Linked DNA regions of Homo sapiens: region 1 is linked to region 2. The links come from fine-mapping of genetic effects on gene expression. Tissue or cell type: subcutaneous fat. Region 2 holds a variant in brackets; the other region holds the start of a gene. All regions are shown on one strand. Distances are from middle to middle.

Region 1 (8,000 bases), 94 kb after region 2:
TCCCTTGCAGAGAACAAGGGTTCCTCTTCCCCCCCTACTCCAGCTAACACTTGGCATTAGCTGACTTTCTAATTTTTGCTGACCTGATGAGTGTACAGAGTAAAGTTTCATGTTGAACTTTTAAAACAAAGGGGGAAAATACAGAGGGAAAAGAATAGGAAGGAAAGTGGTTAGGAGGGAAGGAAATGGCAGCTGGCTAAGTGGGAAGAATTGGGAAGTCAAGTTTTCTGGACTGCACAGTACCCTACAGAATCCTAGGGGCCATCAGAGCAGCTGCAGGTCACCTTGTGGAAAAGTGCAAAATACAGTTTAGACATTTGGAATTTGGCTTCCTGGCAGCCTGGCTGGAAGGTGTTGGTTCCACAGGGCCAAGGCTGGCTGTGCCTGCCTCCCTCTGGGTCCTGGAAGCTGAGGGAGGTGGACCAGCCTCCAGCTCCCAGGTTCTTATGCTCCTCCTATTTATCTCTCAGTCCTTTCCTGGCAGCCAGAGAGTCCATCTTTAGCGGGGACCTGTACAGTATTGTTTTAATCTTCAGCTCTCTCTGCTTCCTCTCTGTTCCCTTCCTCCCTTCCTCTTCTCCTTGTCTACCACACAGAACAGATGTGGAAAAAGCCAGGCCTTTAGGAACATCTGCTGAGACACCAGCTGCCTTCCTCCTGGGCTAAGGAAACTGTGACCCCTCTGATTATTGGGTTTCATCCAAGGACCTCAGTTCTCTGGCCAGAATATTTGCATCGAAGTCAGCAAGGTCTTCTAGCTATTTAAGAGAATTTGCTAAATCCCTGAAGATCTGTACATATAGAAGGAAGGGAGAGATGCTATTTTTTAAACATTGGCTGCAGTTGGAGCTGGCTGGCCCAGAAGTGCAGAATTCCCAATGCTTCCCAAGGAGCATGCATCACTCTCGGAAATACCTGGACACATAGGAGAGGTATAGGAAAAATGAGTTGAGTTGTTCTGATTAAGAAAGGAACTGCAATTTGGAACTTGATCAGCAGCTGCATGCTGACTGCTAGAGGAAGAAGGGTTTGTTTCTGTTTTTGTTTCTTTGTTTTTTTGGGAGGGGACAAAGTGATTTCTGAAAGAGAATGAGAGGGCCTAGAAGTAAAAATGAGGCAGAGGGAATTGGAGGAGGAAATGGCCAGTGATAAATTCCTCCTAGCAGGAGTTCCCCGCCCAGATGGGGACTTCAGTGTAGAATCATTTACTTTGGGGATGACACCTCTTGTTAACTGCAGACCTGCAGGAAACATCTGCTAAACTTGACAGCTGTGAGCTGCTGGTGGTCATTGAAAGACCAGCATTAAGTTGACAGGCAGAAAGAAAACACAGTCCCGGGGGAAGAAAGGAATGAGATGGGAGTGCTCAGTGTGAACAGGAAATCAGAGCCAGGGATGACCAGTAAAATATAAGCCCTGGGGGAATCTAGAAACATCTTGGAAAGGGCCCAAGGCTTTTCCATAACATGTGGACTGGGAGGCTCTCGGGAAGGACCCCAGACTGGTGAACTTGGGAATATGCAAGCTGAAGGCATCTGGGATACACGAGTGGGTGCACACACGCACATGCGCACACACGCACATGCACACTCACACGCACACATGCACACACTGCAGATCCCCTAGAGTAGTGGTCCTCAACCTTGGCTGCACATTTGAATTGCCTGGGGCTTTAAAAAATGCCAGAGCCTACCCTCACCCCAATGCCACCAAACCAATGACATCAGAATCTGTGGGAATCAGACCCACACGTCAGGTTTTCAAAGCTCCCAGGGCTGAGCAGCATTGTTCTACAGCCTGACAGCTCCAGCTGCCTGGAGAGCAGATGCCATTTACAGTCTCCTGCAACCAAAGACTCGCCTGAACCATCGTGCCCTTCCATCACACACCATACCCAGGCCTTCTCCCTTCCTTTCTCACCACCTCCCCTACCCGCTTCCCAACAGATCTCCTCCCACAGTCACAAGATAAGACACAGGCGCCCAGTGGAATTTAAGCCTGAGAGAAACCACAAATAATTTTGTTTAATATAAGTATGAGTTGTGTAAAATTAGTAGATGTCATGCAACATACTCATACTAAAAGTTATTTGTGATTTCTCTAAAATTCAAATTTAACCAGGCATCCTGTGTTTTTAGTTGCTAAATCTGACAATCCTAGATAGAGACAACTTAAAAACAAATAGAGAGTGTCCTTCCTCGACAAGGGACAGAGATCTGGTACCACCACTAGCACTAGACCCAGAGTCAAAGCCCAGGGCTCCTGGGCTGAGGCCCCTGGGAGAATCAGCAAAGCTTTTCGCCTTCCCCACACGTGCTGTGGGCGCGCAGTACTGCAAGTTATCACCACCAGAGGGCGCACTCTGAGTAGGCGGGAGGAGCCCGCAGGGACAAGACCCCAATCCACAGATGCTTAGAGAGACAGTGAGGGCGCAATCCCCAAAGGAGCATTAGTGTTCAACTGGTGGGGTCCAGGGACATTTCTTCCTCTTCTAAACTAAATGATCCCGAAGACACCTGAGATTCAATGAGAGAGAAGGGTGAGCCCGGGGTAGAATGGTAAGACTCAAAACCTGGCAGGTTTCTTTTACAGTGATTTATTGCTTTGATTTTTAAAAATTGCACAAATAAAATAGACCATTCAGAATTAAACGTGGAAGTCCTCCTTTTAATGTCCCCATTCACCTGCCTCGCATGTGTGTCATGGATCTTCCTAGATCTACTTCTACGCACGTGAGTGCGTGTGTGTGTGTGTGAGTGTGTCTGTGTGAGTGTGTGTGTATGTGTGTGTAATATGGGTTTGTTGGTTAAATTCTTTACACAAATCCCATCAGAATATGTATGTAGATAATTTCTAGAAATTTCTTTTTTCATCTAATAGATTTTGAGGAGGATCACTCTGTGACATAGGCAATATTAATTTCATTTACTCTTCACAATGACCCTATGAGGTAGGGGCTAGTGTTATCGTCCGTTATACAGATGGAGAAACTGTGACACAGAAAGGCTAAGTGAGTTGCACAAGATCACACAGCAAGTAAGTGGCAAAGCTGGGATTGAAACCTAGGCTATCTGGCTTTGGAGCACGAATGCTTAATCACTCTTCTGCAATACTTGGCTTTAACCACTGCATCACAGTCTAGCCTAGAGATGGACCATAGTATATTTATAACCACTGCCCTTTTGATCCATATGCAGGCTGTGTCCAGGGTTCCACTAGTATAAAAAAGGATGCAGAGAAGAGCTTTGTGCAGCAGCCAGAGGGGTTCTTGCAGGGTAGTGGCCCAGCTGTGGAGTATGCACAGGTTACATTCCAATAAATACTGTTAGATTTTATTCCCAAGAGGTTGAAACTTTCCCATTCCCAGCAGTTGTGTTAGTGTGCCCATCCCCCTTGGTGCCATCGAGGGCATGCAGGCAGAAGGAACAGCCTGTGGAGAGGGGCGTGGATATGGTTTGGGGAATGGCAAGAAGTCCAGTGAGGCTGAAGGTTGGGTTGTAGTTGCTGGTTGCGAATGTAATCTATTTTATGCTCTGCAAATTTGATACACGATACCACGATATTTCATTGTAGTTTTTGTTTGCATTTCCCCAATTACCAGGAAGCAATATCATCTTTTTGTGTGTTTATGAGCCATTTGTGTTTTTTCTTCTGTAAACTTTATGTTCATATTTTTACACTTTCCCAATGGGATGTTTATCTTCTTGGTTTGTAGGTGCTCTAGTATTATGGGATGTTAGTCTTTTGTCAGTTACATTTGCACGAATATTATCTCATGGCGTGTTGCTCTTACAAACTCAAGTTTTTAGATAGTAACCTGGATTGTCAAATGCGACAAGACGGTTTCTCAGTCACAGCTGTGGAATGTGTAACGAGACAACCTCTCTGAAGGGCAGCTTGGTAATAGATACCAAATGTGCTTTAAATCGTGTACACTTGCTGATGCTGGTATTCTATATCCATCCTAAGGAAAGATCAGGGATAAAGACAGCAAGTTAGCTCTGAAGATGGTCATTCCAGTTTTGTTAATGATGTAACAATTTGAGAACCTTTACATGTCCAGTAATAGCGCATTGGAAAAATCAATTACATCTTAATCACTGGCAGGAATATAATGTTACCATGAAAAAAGATGCAATAAAACTGTGTTTTTGACTGTACTAGTAAATGAAAAAATTGATAGCATGAAAGATTTTGTCCAGTATTATTCCATTTTTGTAAAAATGTTTAAAGTTCAGGCTGATAAGATATACCCCAAAATGTTGATAATGATTTTTCTCTGCATGGAGCTATTATGGGGTAATCTTTACTGTCTTATTTTTGCTACTCTAAATTTTTTTTAAATTTCTACAAATAATATTAATTACTTTTATAATAAATATATATTTTTAAAATTATACATACATATATATATACACACACGTATGCATATATTTATACCTAATTTTTTCTTTTGACTATTGGTGGTAGACAGCTCCCAGATGATCCACAGGCCCTCAGTGAAACTTACCTCCTGTTATTCATGCTTTTGTGTCCTCTTTTCTCAAACTGAATCAGAGCTGGTCAGTGTTACCAGTAGAATACTGCAGAAGTGATGGTGTGTCACATCCAAGGCTAAGTCATAAGGGCATTGTGACTTCAACCTTTGCTCTTGGATCACTTGCCCTGGGGAAGCAGCTACCATGTTGTGAGGCTGCTCAAGTAGCCTTGTGGAGAGGTCCACCTGGAGAGAAAACAAGGCCTTTGCCGCAGCCGGCACCAACTTGCCAACCATCTGAGTCAGCCACCTTGGAAGTGGATCCTCCAGCCTCATTCCAGCCTTCAGATGACCACTGTCCCAGCTCATATCTAGACTGCAACCTCATGAGAGACCTGGAGCCAGAACACCCAGCTAAGCTGTTCCTGAATTCCCGACTCACAGAGACTGTGAAAGATAATATATGTTTGTGTCTGTTTTAAGTCACTAAGTTTTGGCTGTTGCCTAACAGTAGATAGCTGATATAAAGCTTAGTACCAGAAGTGGGGTGCTGATGGAACATAAACCTACCAATGTGGGAGCGTCTTTGGAACTGAGCAGAGGGCAGAAGCTGAAAGGACTTTGAAGAAAGTGTCAGAGAAAGCCTAAAGGGCACTGGAGAAGCCAGTAGTGGGAGGAGAATGTTGGTGAGGGTTTATAGGAAAGTGAGAACAATGCATTAGAGACTGGAAGAAAGGTGATTCTTGTTATGGAGAGGCAGAAATTAAGCAACACTGCAACAAGATGGAAAGCTCATAAATTGAATGATCTAGCTAAGGAGACTTTTAGGCAAGCCCAGATATTGGGCTCTTCCACTAAGAGTATCTTGCTACAAATATAAAAGAACCAGAAAATGCAGCCCTGCCCTTGGCCTTGGCCTCTGGGCGCCATCTCACTCAGTAGCATGAACTGTGCCCACTGGCCTCCTTGCAAGTGACTGATGCAGAAGGTGGAGAGTTGTCATGCTTGCTGGTTCCCAGGATGGTTCTCAGAAAGCTTGGAACTGAGGTGGAATCATGTTCGTGTTCCTCCCAGAGTATAGAGCAGTTAGACTCTCGGTACATTTCTGGAGAGAGATGGGGGTGAAGAGTGCTCAAGGGAAGAATTGAATCAATGCTCCCAGCACTCCACCCTGCCCATGGGAAGTCAGGTTGCACAGAGGCTAACCTGAAAACTCAGTCACAATGCTCCCTGGATCTGATCATATTTAGGGTATACTTTGGGGTGCCTGGGCCCCTCAGCAGGTGGGTCTGGACAGAGGCTGCACACTGCAGGTTCCTCCCATGTTTTTCTTCCTAAGGATGGAACCACTCACATGCATGATACTCACACACATGACACTCACACGCATGCCGTCTCTCCTTGGGATACCTGACGGTCTGAGCTTTAAAGTAATTTACCTTTATTTACCTGTAATGAACATTCGTCCCGCTTTCTTCTTGTCCAGTGCTTCAAACATCTTTTCTTTGGGGAGCTCCTGCCTCCTCAGTCCCTGACTGTCTAGAGGAGCCAGAAACTCTATTTCTCAGACAGGAGGGTGCAGGCATGTGACCAAACTCACCATACAGATGTACCTGCACCAGACTCAGATTCAGAGCCAGGGGCTCCAGGACGAAGCAAGGTCCCATGGGCTCCACCCTGGCGGGGAGGCGACATTGGAAGCCCCTTTGCAGTTGCCCTACTCAGGGCAGGCTGCCGTGTTGTTTCCTGGAGCTGCTCTGCAGTAGGTGGCACGTTTGGGCCATATTCTAGAGCCCAGTTCCCAGGTCATTCAAAAGATGCTGGGGCCCCCAAGTAGCCAGTGATAAATCCCATTTCTGCTTAAACTCAATACAAGTGGTTTCTGTTGTTTGCAACCAAGCCTGCCTGAGGCCTTCTACTGGCGCTGCACCTTTGCAAGGGAGACATTTGGTGTGATATATAACAGCAACTTTGGGACGAATTCCACTCTACCAGACACAGCTGGGAGCAGAACAATCCCAGATACCTCTTCGGGTAAATGGACCCCTAACTAGGGAAATGCATTTTTTAATGTGCTTTTTAAATCACTTGGAATGCCCTGACCTCCCCACCTCCTCCTCTGTCCCACTCGGGTCCACCCTCCACATCACGGCCAGTGTGATCTTTCTCCACAATGATCTGGTGGTGCTACTCCCCATGTGACACCTGCGCTGGGTGTCTCTGTCCCCACCCCATCTTCCTCCTCCCTGCTGTGCCCACCCAGCCATGCCATGGGGACAATCACTCTTGCTCTCTGGCTTCAAGTGGGGTTTGGCCAATGGGAGCATGGGCAGGCCCTCACAGGGCAGGAAGAATGGACTTGGACATCTGTTACCCCCGGTCCTTCCCTGCCAGGTTACCACAGGTAGGCTGTGTCCCTTTACTGCAGACTCATATGTGCTTCTCCACACAGCCACCCTCTCTGGGTTCTGATAGCCACTCCCTGGCCTCCTCTCTTCGGGTCTAGGGGTAGGCACAGCTCCCCAAAGAGACAGTAGCACCTCACAGCTGTGTCAGTCCCAGGCATGCTCCATGCTCTGCTGGCTTCCCTAACCCCGTCCACCCCTTTGCAGACAGCGTCTTTATCAACCCACACTTCAGTTACCCATCTTAGTGTGTCATCTGTGTCCTGTTAGGGCCCTGGCTGAGACAACAGCCTTCACTCAATGTTTAGGTTTTGTGCAAGACGCAATTCCTTCAGGACTAAGCTGAGATTTCAAGACCCTATGAGATCTGGCCCCTGCCAGCCTTTCCTGCTCATCTGTCCTTCCCTGACTATGCCAGGCTTTCTCCCTCCCTGCCTTTGCCACTCCACCAAGGCCCTCACCCAGGAGCACCCTCACTCTTCTGGCCTGCCGCTGCAGAGATGTCTGCTCTAGGCAGCTGTGCAGGCCAACTAATGCCCACCACAAAATGTCCATGTCCCAATCCCTGGAACTCAGGAATGCTACCTTCTATGACAAAAGGAACTTTGCAGGTGTGGGTAAGGATGTGGAGATGGCAAGAGTGTCCTAGATTATCCAGATGGGCCTTAAATGTCATCACAAGTGTCCATAATGAGGGAGGCTGACGGGCATTTGAGTGCAGCAGGGAAGGCCGTGTGATGTTGGGTGCAGAGGTTGCAGGGGTGCATTTTGAAGAAGGAGAAGGGGGCTGCAGGCAAGGATGCAGGCAGCCTCCCAAAGCTGAACAGGGCCAGGAAGCGATTCTCCCCTGGAGCCTCCGGAAAAGACCAGCTCAGATGACACCTATAGCCAGGGAAACTGATTTCACACTTAACGACCTTCAGTGTCATAAGAGAATACATTTATGTTGTTTTAAGCCACTAAGGTAGTGGTAATCTGTTACAACAGCCATGAGAAACTAATCAGATGCCTTTCCCAATCCCAGACTGGGCAGGCGGACCCCTCTGAGTTTCTGCCACCCGTACTCACTCTGAGTGGCACCTGTCAATCCGTATCAGACCTGCAGTTTACCTGTTGAT
Region 2 (8,000 bases):
ACCTTGATCTTGGATTTCAAGTCTGCAGAGCTGTGAGAAAACAAGTATCTGTTGTTAAAGCCATGCAGTCTGCAGTAGTCTGTTATGGCAGCCTGTACTGACCAATACATGGCCCCTCCTGACCTCACCTGCCCTTCCCAAGACTCTTTTCCTCTGGCAACGTGTTCCTCTGAACACACACTTACACACTGGTCTCATTGCTGTTTCCTGAAGCTGCTAAGCTCATTCCTGCCTTACAGCATTTGTGATTGCTGTTCCCTCTGCCTGGAATGTTCTTCTGTCTTGTTTTTGCTGAGCTCACTTCCTCACCACCTTCAGGTTTCTACCTGGTGTCACCTAAGAAGGCATCTCAATTCATCCTAAGTAAGACTTTCCTTTCTGGATCACCTTGCACCCCCAATCTTGTTTTATTTTTCTCCACAACACTGATGTAATAATATGTACTCATTTGTTTATTGTCTCTCTCTCTGTGACCAGAATAAAACCTCCTCCCAGAATAAAAGCTCCAAGATGATCAGTCTCAGATCTCTCCTTGAGAAGATCAGAGACTGATCATCTTGCTCCCTGCTGTATCTCAGCACCCAAACGATGCCTGGCACATAATAGGATTGCAACATATATATGTTGAATGACTAAGTGAATGAATTAGTATGTATCATGCTTGCTTTGTAGACATATGAGTATATGTATGTATGTATACATATATGTAACATGTGTATGTATTTACACACATATATTCATCTATATATTTGTATCTATATCAACACCTGCACCTGCCTATAAAGCAGGACATGTTCATTTGTAAAGAGGATACAGACCAAGATTTTATTTCTGATTCTATATGGATGGAGGAATTCTAGTGGCAAAATGATGTTGTGTTTGAAAACCAAAAGCCCAAGGTCACACAGCTTCCGGTCCATCAGAGGCCAATTTCCTTATCACACTAGATTGGCTCTTGAAAATCTCACTATAAATTATGAGGAAGAAAGAAATTCAAACCAAAGAATAGTAGAGCTAAAGGGTTATTTGAGATTCTCTAGTTCAGTCAACAAAAAGTGTGCTAATCCTCTCCCATCTCACACCCTTGGCAGACATCACTAATGGATTATGGCACTTTCCACCATTGAACTTCTGAGTCGTCTTTAGCATAATGCCTCAGGCTGACTTAGCTGCTCAAATGAAGTGATTTGTCATCCCAAATCTAACCCACCCCAATCAGTTTTTGGATTGACAGTCTGAGGCCCAGAGAGGAGCATTCATTTGTCCCAAATTGCACAGCATGCCAGAACCAAGACCTGGGTCACCCAAAGCTGACCTGGCTTGTGTTCCTATGGTGCAACATTAAGCTGGAAGGGAACTTAGAGGTCATGTTCAATATAAAATCACATAGAAGGTTATTATTTCTAAATGATCTTTCATTACTTCTGATTACTTCTAAAAATTTTAATCACTTGCTGCCAAAAGTTAACTTACCAGTAAAATGAGCTACAGGAATCAGACCAATTCTGGCTACCAGCAAGATGCTAAATAGAACCAATTGTAGTCAAGAGACCAAGAAGAAATTCCTGCCTTTTGAGATCAAGGAAAGCAAAAGACAGTTCAGCAAAAATAGAGAGTGAGAACCTTGAATGGTGAAAAGTGAGGACGGATCAACACGTTTTTCAAACCCGTGCAGGCTGCAGAAGACACTATTGCCTTCCTCCCAAGAGCCATCCTCCACTTTTATCTCTGCTAACAGAAACCTAGTCATATTCTGATCTCCACTCCTCAGGCAAGGTAACTATTCCTAGCTCAAGACTAAATCCCAGTTGTCCAAGCCGAACATGCAATCTCATTCCCCCTGACAACGATGAATACAAAACTGCATGTGATCTGATTTTGACCACAGTCCTGCTAAAGGACTCTGGGAAAAACTGCTCACTCTTAAAATGAGAAACACAAAAATGCCAGTCTCTTTTTGCCTTTGAACATTAGTACATTTGAGTGTGATGACTGGGCTATGGCAACCATCCTGGCACCATGAGGAGAACAACTTGAGGCAGGACTGACAGGCCCAGGACCCCAGAAAGGAAGGACAGTAGAAGAAACCTGGATGCTTGGAAATGTGGAGAACCCCAGGAGACACCCTGCCTTGGGTCATAGATCTTTCTTCTTCTTTAAACCATTTGGCATTGGGGTTTCTCTTACCTGCTACCTAAAGCATACCAACTGGTACATGAGATACCTCCCATTGCTTCCTAGAGACTGAAACAGGCTTAGTCAAAGCTCCAGGCCTTTCCCAACTCCCAGACATTGCACCCTCACTTTCCCAGTTGTCTAAGGACAGAACAGACCCTTATATCTGAGGGCACCTGGGGAAGCTCCACCATGACCCACATGTATTCCAGGTGCCTGAAATACCACCCTTAGTGAGGTATTGTTCTGTTTAGATATGCAAATCGTCCTGGGGGTAGATTAAGTCCCCTAAGTGAGAAAGAACTAATTGCATCTCTTTCTTCTTCCAAGAAACTTTGGCAGACTGTTATTACAGGAGAAACAGATGCCGAGATGGGAGTTAATGCACAGGGGTTTCATGAAGGCAAATGCCTGTGAGAGAAAATGGGTGGAAGGGAGGGTAGAGAGAGCAGTCAGGCCATGTGATGCAAGACCCTGAGTGGAGGACAGAGGGAAGGAAGATTGGGTAGAAGCATTCTAGGCAGTTGTGCCAACTTGATAGGCTTGGCAGTGCCTTCCTTGAGCCAAGGTCTAGTAACAGCAGAGTTCCGTGTCTGCCAGTGATAGCTCCCCTTCAATTCCTGCCAGGCAGTCCTGGGTAGGAGGAGCCTCTGGGAGGTGTGGCCTCTGCACAGACACAGCTGGAAAAAATGGGCTCCTGGGACAGAGGGGAAGGAGACTTGGGGTGGGAGATACCTCCGCAGGGGGTCATGTCTGTGTGATGGTCACGCTCTGCTCCATCCAGGCACTCACTCAGTAAACCTCTTTCAGTGAAGCCAGCTTAGACCAGCAATTCTTCACATGGTGGTCATGTCAATGGCTGTCGTTGCTGACGAATGGAAACTAGAGAATGGGCTAGGTCACTTGAGAACATTAATGTGTCAGGCCAGGTTGGCACAGGAGAAAGCTGAGCTCATGAGGCAGAGGCTCCAGGAGCCACATGTGCCTGGGGATTAGTGCTACTCTGGACTTTACAGGCCATGCCGTTTGGGGCAGTTTGAGGCCATTTTCTCTGGTTCTCACTGGCCAGGAAGAACCCCACCCAATCTCTGAGTTACTCATTGTAAGCCTGGTTGCTGCATCAGAGATTCAAAACACTGGGCCTTAGGTGAGAGTGCAGTTGCCTTCTCACATATTAGTGCAGGTGCAGGTCTGGGACGGGGACCCAGGCTCTTGCCCTCTTGTTGCTCTGCCTTCCCCAGAGTGCTGCGAAAGAATACCGTCCACAGAAAATTATTGATGAGATGATGCCTTGGCAGCCCATGTATGTGCCAGGCACTGTTCTCAATACTTTATAAGTATCAAGCCTTTAACCCTCAAAATCTCTCAGAGTAGATAATATCCTAATTTTACAGAAATTGAAGCCAAAGAAGTCGAGTTGCCAGCTCCACAATCTATGCTGGCGACAACCACGCCTGCTAGCCAGAAGGAAGGGGGGCGGGGGTGTGCAGA[C/G]AAATGGAACCCTCCTTCCCTTTAAGGACTGAGACAGATACCATGAGTCAGGTGGCCATGCTTGGTTTCCAGGGTGGCTGAGAGATGTAGTCTTTAGCTGGGCAGGCATGTGCAAAGTGCCCAGCTAAATTACTACTCTGCCTGGAATGGCTCTTCCAATCATTTACACCATCATTCATGATTTACCAGGCCATGATTTAGGCTAACATTATCCAAGATTCAGTTCACCTGCACTGGGAAGATACTCCCAACTCCACCCTTGGCTGGGTTAAATGCCCCACTTAGGGCTTCCATTAGCCCCTGGGATGCCTTCTATGTCACTCTTATTATATGTTATTAGAAGATCCTCTCTGGTCCCAATAGGCCTACAGACATGGTTTGTTTGGCCCACACAGTGTTTAAAGAAAAAAAAAATAGAAATAAAAACCACACGCGCACACACACACACACACACACACACACACACAAGCAATTCCAAACATATGGCTTCCCCTTAAAAATCATAAGGCACAATACAGGACAGTCAACTGAGACTGAATAGCTCCCCAGTCCCTGTACAGAGGACACATGCACTTCGTTCTCACAGTCCCCACCGCTCCCTAATGTCCCACACCCTCCCTAATTCATTCATTCATGTTGCCTGCCTGACCCTGGTAGGTAGTAGCCATTGCAACTCCATTGGACCATGGGTTTTTGGGGGGCAAAGTGTGCTTCAGCTGGATGTGCCTTGCACTTGGCACACAGCAGGTGCTCAGAAATGTTTATGGAGTGTGTGAATAGGTTTGCTGAAACTTTCAGGATTAAATTGCATTGCAGCACAGACATACATTCCACCCACACCCTTCCCAACCGTCACCCCAAAGAAATCTATATTTAATTGGGTTTGCAAAATCAGAGCCTCCAAGCAACTTCACACTAGAGATCCTTTCTAAACGGCAGAAATGCGACAGCTTCGCCCTGTGTGCTTGAGCCTATTCATAGCTCGGGTGTGTTTCCTGGGCAGCTGCATTGTTCTTAGTGGGAGAGCAGCAGAGGCAACCTTCTAAGTCCGACTCCCCCTCTGCCTCTCCCAACCCTCCCTCATGCCCTTCCACACTTCTCTTTCTCTGTCCAGCTTGCCTGCCCGCTGTCTATTCTGTTGGATGGTTATTTATTTATCGTCAGCACTAATCAGAGGGTGGGGAGGGGAAATAGGAGCTCTTGCCGATGCGAAAGTGCTTCGCCAGGGTCCCCAGGGAGAATCCTGTGCGGTGTGCAGCGCCAGAGGTCACTGTCACCTTGGCCTTGAGGTGGCCTGTTTACCAAAGTGAAATGAAGATATCAGTCAGATGTCAGGTAAATGCTAATGGCCAGCTCCTGGGCAGAGAGCTGGCACAGGATTGGCCGGGCTGGGTGAACCCTTCCTTTCCAATTCTGCAGCACAAAGGCCCCAGTGACTTAGCAACTCCGATAAGAGGTCAATGGGCAAATGTCAGTCCTTGATTGAATGCACCTCTTGGCCTGGTTTCAGGAGCCCCAGGGCTGCCTCTCTGCATTTCCCTCGGCTCTCCCCACTCCTATGCAACTGGAGGAAGGTGAAGCATTTGTTGGAAAGCCCTCCCATCCACCCTTTCCCTATCTCTGGCAGGAAAGAAAGCCTATCCCTTCATGTCCCAAGGTCCGAAAGCACAATGAAAACCGGCATCATTATCCTTCAGCCGTGAATGGGAAAAGCAGGATGTTGACTATGGGTCGTCACCTAGGAGGACGGATGAGACTGGATTCAGTCGCAGAAAAGGACAGGAAACAGTCGCTGCCTTGTTTATCACTGTGTGATAGATAGCATCCCGGGGCCACCTCTCCACGCAGGGCCTCATTAGGAAGTCAGCACCTGAAACAGGAACCTCCGCATCACATGGTCCAAGATGAAACAGGGCCTGTTAGCTCGGTCTCCCAGGACTGTGGATCCTTTTTGCATTCCTTCTATTGTTTTTCCAATGTGGGGGCTTGGCACTGGGCACAGTGAGGGTCTCACACCTCTGCTGGTTCTCACCAACAGGAAGCATCTCCCACATTGACATCTTCAAGCAGCCCCTCCCCAAGCCCCTCGAAGTCACTTAGTCTTCATTCTCATCTAGTCTTTTCTGCAAACTCTCCTGCTCCTCAGTCAACGCTCTTTTATTCTTCTTTAGACTTTTTCTCTGCATCCTCCTGCCCCTGCCAGCATAACAATTGAAAGAACTGTCAAATCTTCTCAAATAAATTTTTCTGCATTTTTTTGCTTCTTCTCATATTTAACCTTGTTGATATTTTAATTTTTTTCAGCTTGTAAAAGATTAGAAATCAGAAAGAATTTAAGAAGTTTGTATAGTATACAACACCACGTGCAATAAAATGGGCACAACTTGTCTCCCTTTTATACTATGTAGCTACTGATCACTTTGGACTGCTACGAAATACATAGGACATCAATATGTAACATATTAGCTGTATGTTGATTTCTATAGACAGCGAGGCACCTGACCTTTGGTCTGGAATGCATCTTAAAAATCGGACGTGGATTGTATTACTTTGTCTTGCTGCACAGTTGTTCACCACAAACTGTCACAGGTGCCCCTCACAGCCTTTTTGGTACTCCAGTGGGGGCCTGCTCTGATTAGACGCTGTGCTCAAGGCCATTCTCACTGACTTGCTATTGCAGGGCTGCGAATGCTCGAGAAATCAGACTCTTACACACAGGTGAGTTTCTGGGATCTGGTTAGTAAACCATACCTTCAAGTAAACCACCATAGCCTCCACCATATTCAGAATAAGCAAAACCCTAGAAATGTTGACTTGAAGAAGGATGTCCTGTCCCTTTGGTGACAAGTTGCCTTGTCACAGGAAGATAAAAATGGCTTCATTTGCCCATTTGCCACAGTAGCTCTGATGATCAACCCTGCTTCCTGTCTTGTGCTCCCTTCAATGGATTCTCCATGCACAAAGCAGAGTGATCCTCTTAAAATACAAATCAGGTCAGCTGTCTCTCCCCTGCTTCCAAAAATTCTGCAAAATATTTAGCATCTCAGTCAAACTCCTTCCTACGATAGTGCCTATCACTCTGACTTCATCTCATGGCATCTTCTCCCCCTCGCTCATCACGCTGGAACCACTTTGGCTTCCTCACTGTTCCAAAGACATGCCAAGCTGGCTTTCTGCTCAGTGGGGTTGTAGTTGCTGTTCTCTCTGTGTGGGATGCTCTTCCCTCAGATTTCTGCATGGCTGGCTCTTTCTCATCAGGTCTCACCTCAAATGTCACCTCCTCCGAGAAGCCCTCTGATCTCTCACATCACTCAGTCTCATTTTCATCACATCCCTTATCATTACCCAATATCTTTCTGTTCATTTCATCATGTACTTCCCCTACCACCCGCCGCTGTGAGAAGATAAGCTCCGTGAGAGCAGCAGCATGGTCTGGGGTCCCATAAACGGGCTCCTCCAAGTCCGGATCCATCTCCAGGCGGCTTCCAGTCCAGAGTTCTAGGCACAGCACCAGCCAGCTTCTTGAACGAGTGTTGGCATTTCTTTCTCAGTGGCTTTGAAATCAGACGTCAGCCCCCAACCTCGTGACTCAGCCGGCAGCATGTGAGAAGGCTGGCTTGGGGACACAAAGTCCTTCGATCTTTAGAGAGATAGCAGCCCTCCTGGGAACGGGGCCACAGATGAAGGCTGAGCATGAAGCCTGGGCACTGGCCTGCCACTGGAAGCTGACCCTCTGCTGGACCATGCCAACTCTTGACATTTCCCAAACTAGGCAATGGCCCAGGCTTTTGAAAGCCAGTATCGCCTAGCTATGGAATCGCCATGCAGATAGTGCTCAGGGAATGAAATTAAATTTCCCTTTTCAGAACAAAGACAAACACACTCCTCTCACCCATCCTACGAGAGCTGGGCCGGGAGCGCCTGCCTCCGTGCCAGGATTCAAAGCCCACGGGCTCTCCTGCTTGCTTCAGCAGTTCCTGGCAAGTGCAACGGAGTTCTCCCGCTTTAAAATCTAATTGCCTGCCCACGCCCGTGAATCCCATCTCCAAAGGCAAGAAAAAAAAAAATTTTAAAAAAAAGTTGGTGGGGGTGGGAGGGGCCGGGGTTCTCACACATTCAGCCCAGATGAGCCCATTTAAGCTTTTGACATTATGCCTTTTGGGGAGGCCGATTCAAAATAAAACCAGCCCGAGAAGCTCCTGTTTTAAACAGAAAGATCCATAAATGCAGCTTCTGTCAGTAATGAGAAAAATGGAAATCACAAGCAAAACCAGAAAACTCATTCCCCCAGAATCTTAATGATCTCCAGAATAATTGTGCTGGTCTCTCAAATC

Which allele goes with the higher level. Alleles are on the strand shown, and positions count from the first base shown. SD is a standard deviation of normalised expression in the study named.
In carriers of allele C in region 2, the expression in subcutaneous fat of the gene that starts at base 4,559 in region 1 tends to be higher than with G alone (small effect, 0.27 SD a copy in GTEx).

What was found. PIP is the estimated chance that this variant, and not a neighbour inherited with it, causes the effect.
Region 1: it holds the start of LINC02995, and the variant in region 2 is fine-mapped to the expression of LINC02995 in subcutaneous fat (GTEx, PIP above 0.99).

The regions. Positions count from the first base shown.
Region 1 is chr5:173,576,193-173,584,192 of GRCh38, reverse strand. LINC02995 (long intergenic non-protein coding RNA 2995) reads right to left here and starts at 4,559. Exons shown (of 4, transcript NR_027108.2): 1 at 4,511-4,559; 2 at 3,818-3,964; 3 at 285-915; 4 at 1-83.
Region 2 is chr5:173,670,579-173,678,578 of GRCh38, reverse strand. No RefSeq gene overlaps it. Among named protein-coding and RNA genes, the nearest start is that of LINC01942, 15 kb to the left of the region's middle. RefSeq lists an enhancer at 7,980-8,000. The variant C/G (reference allele first, on the strand shown) is at 3,667.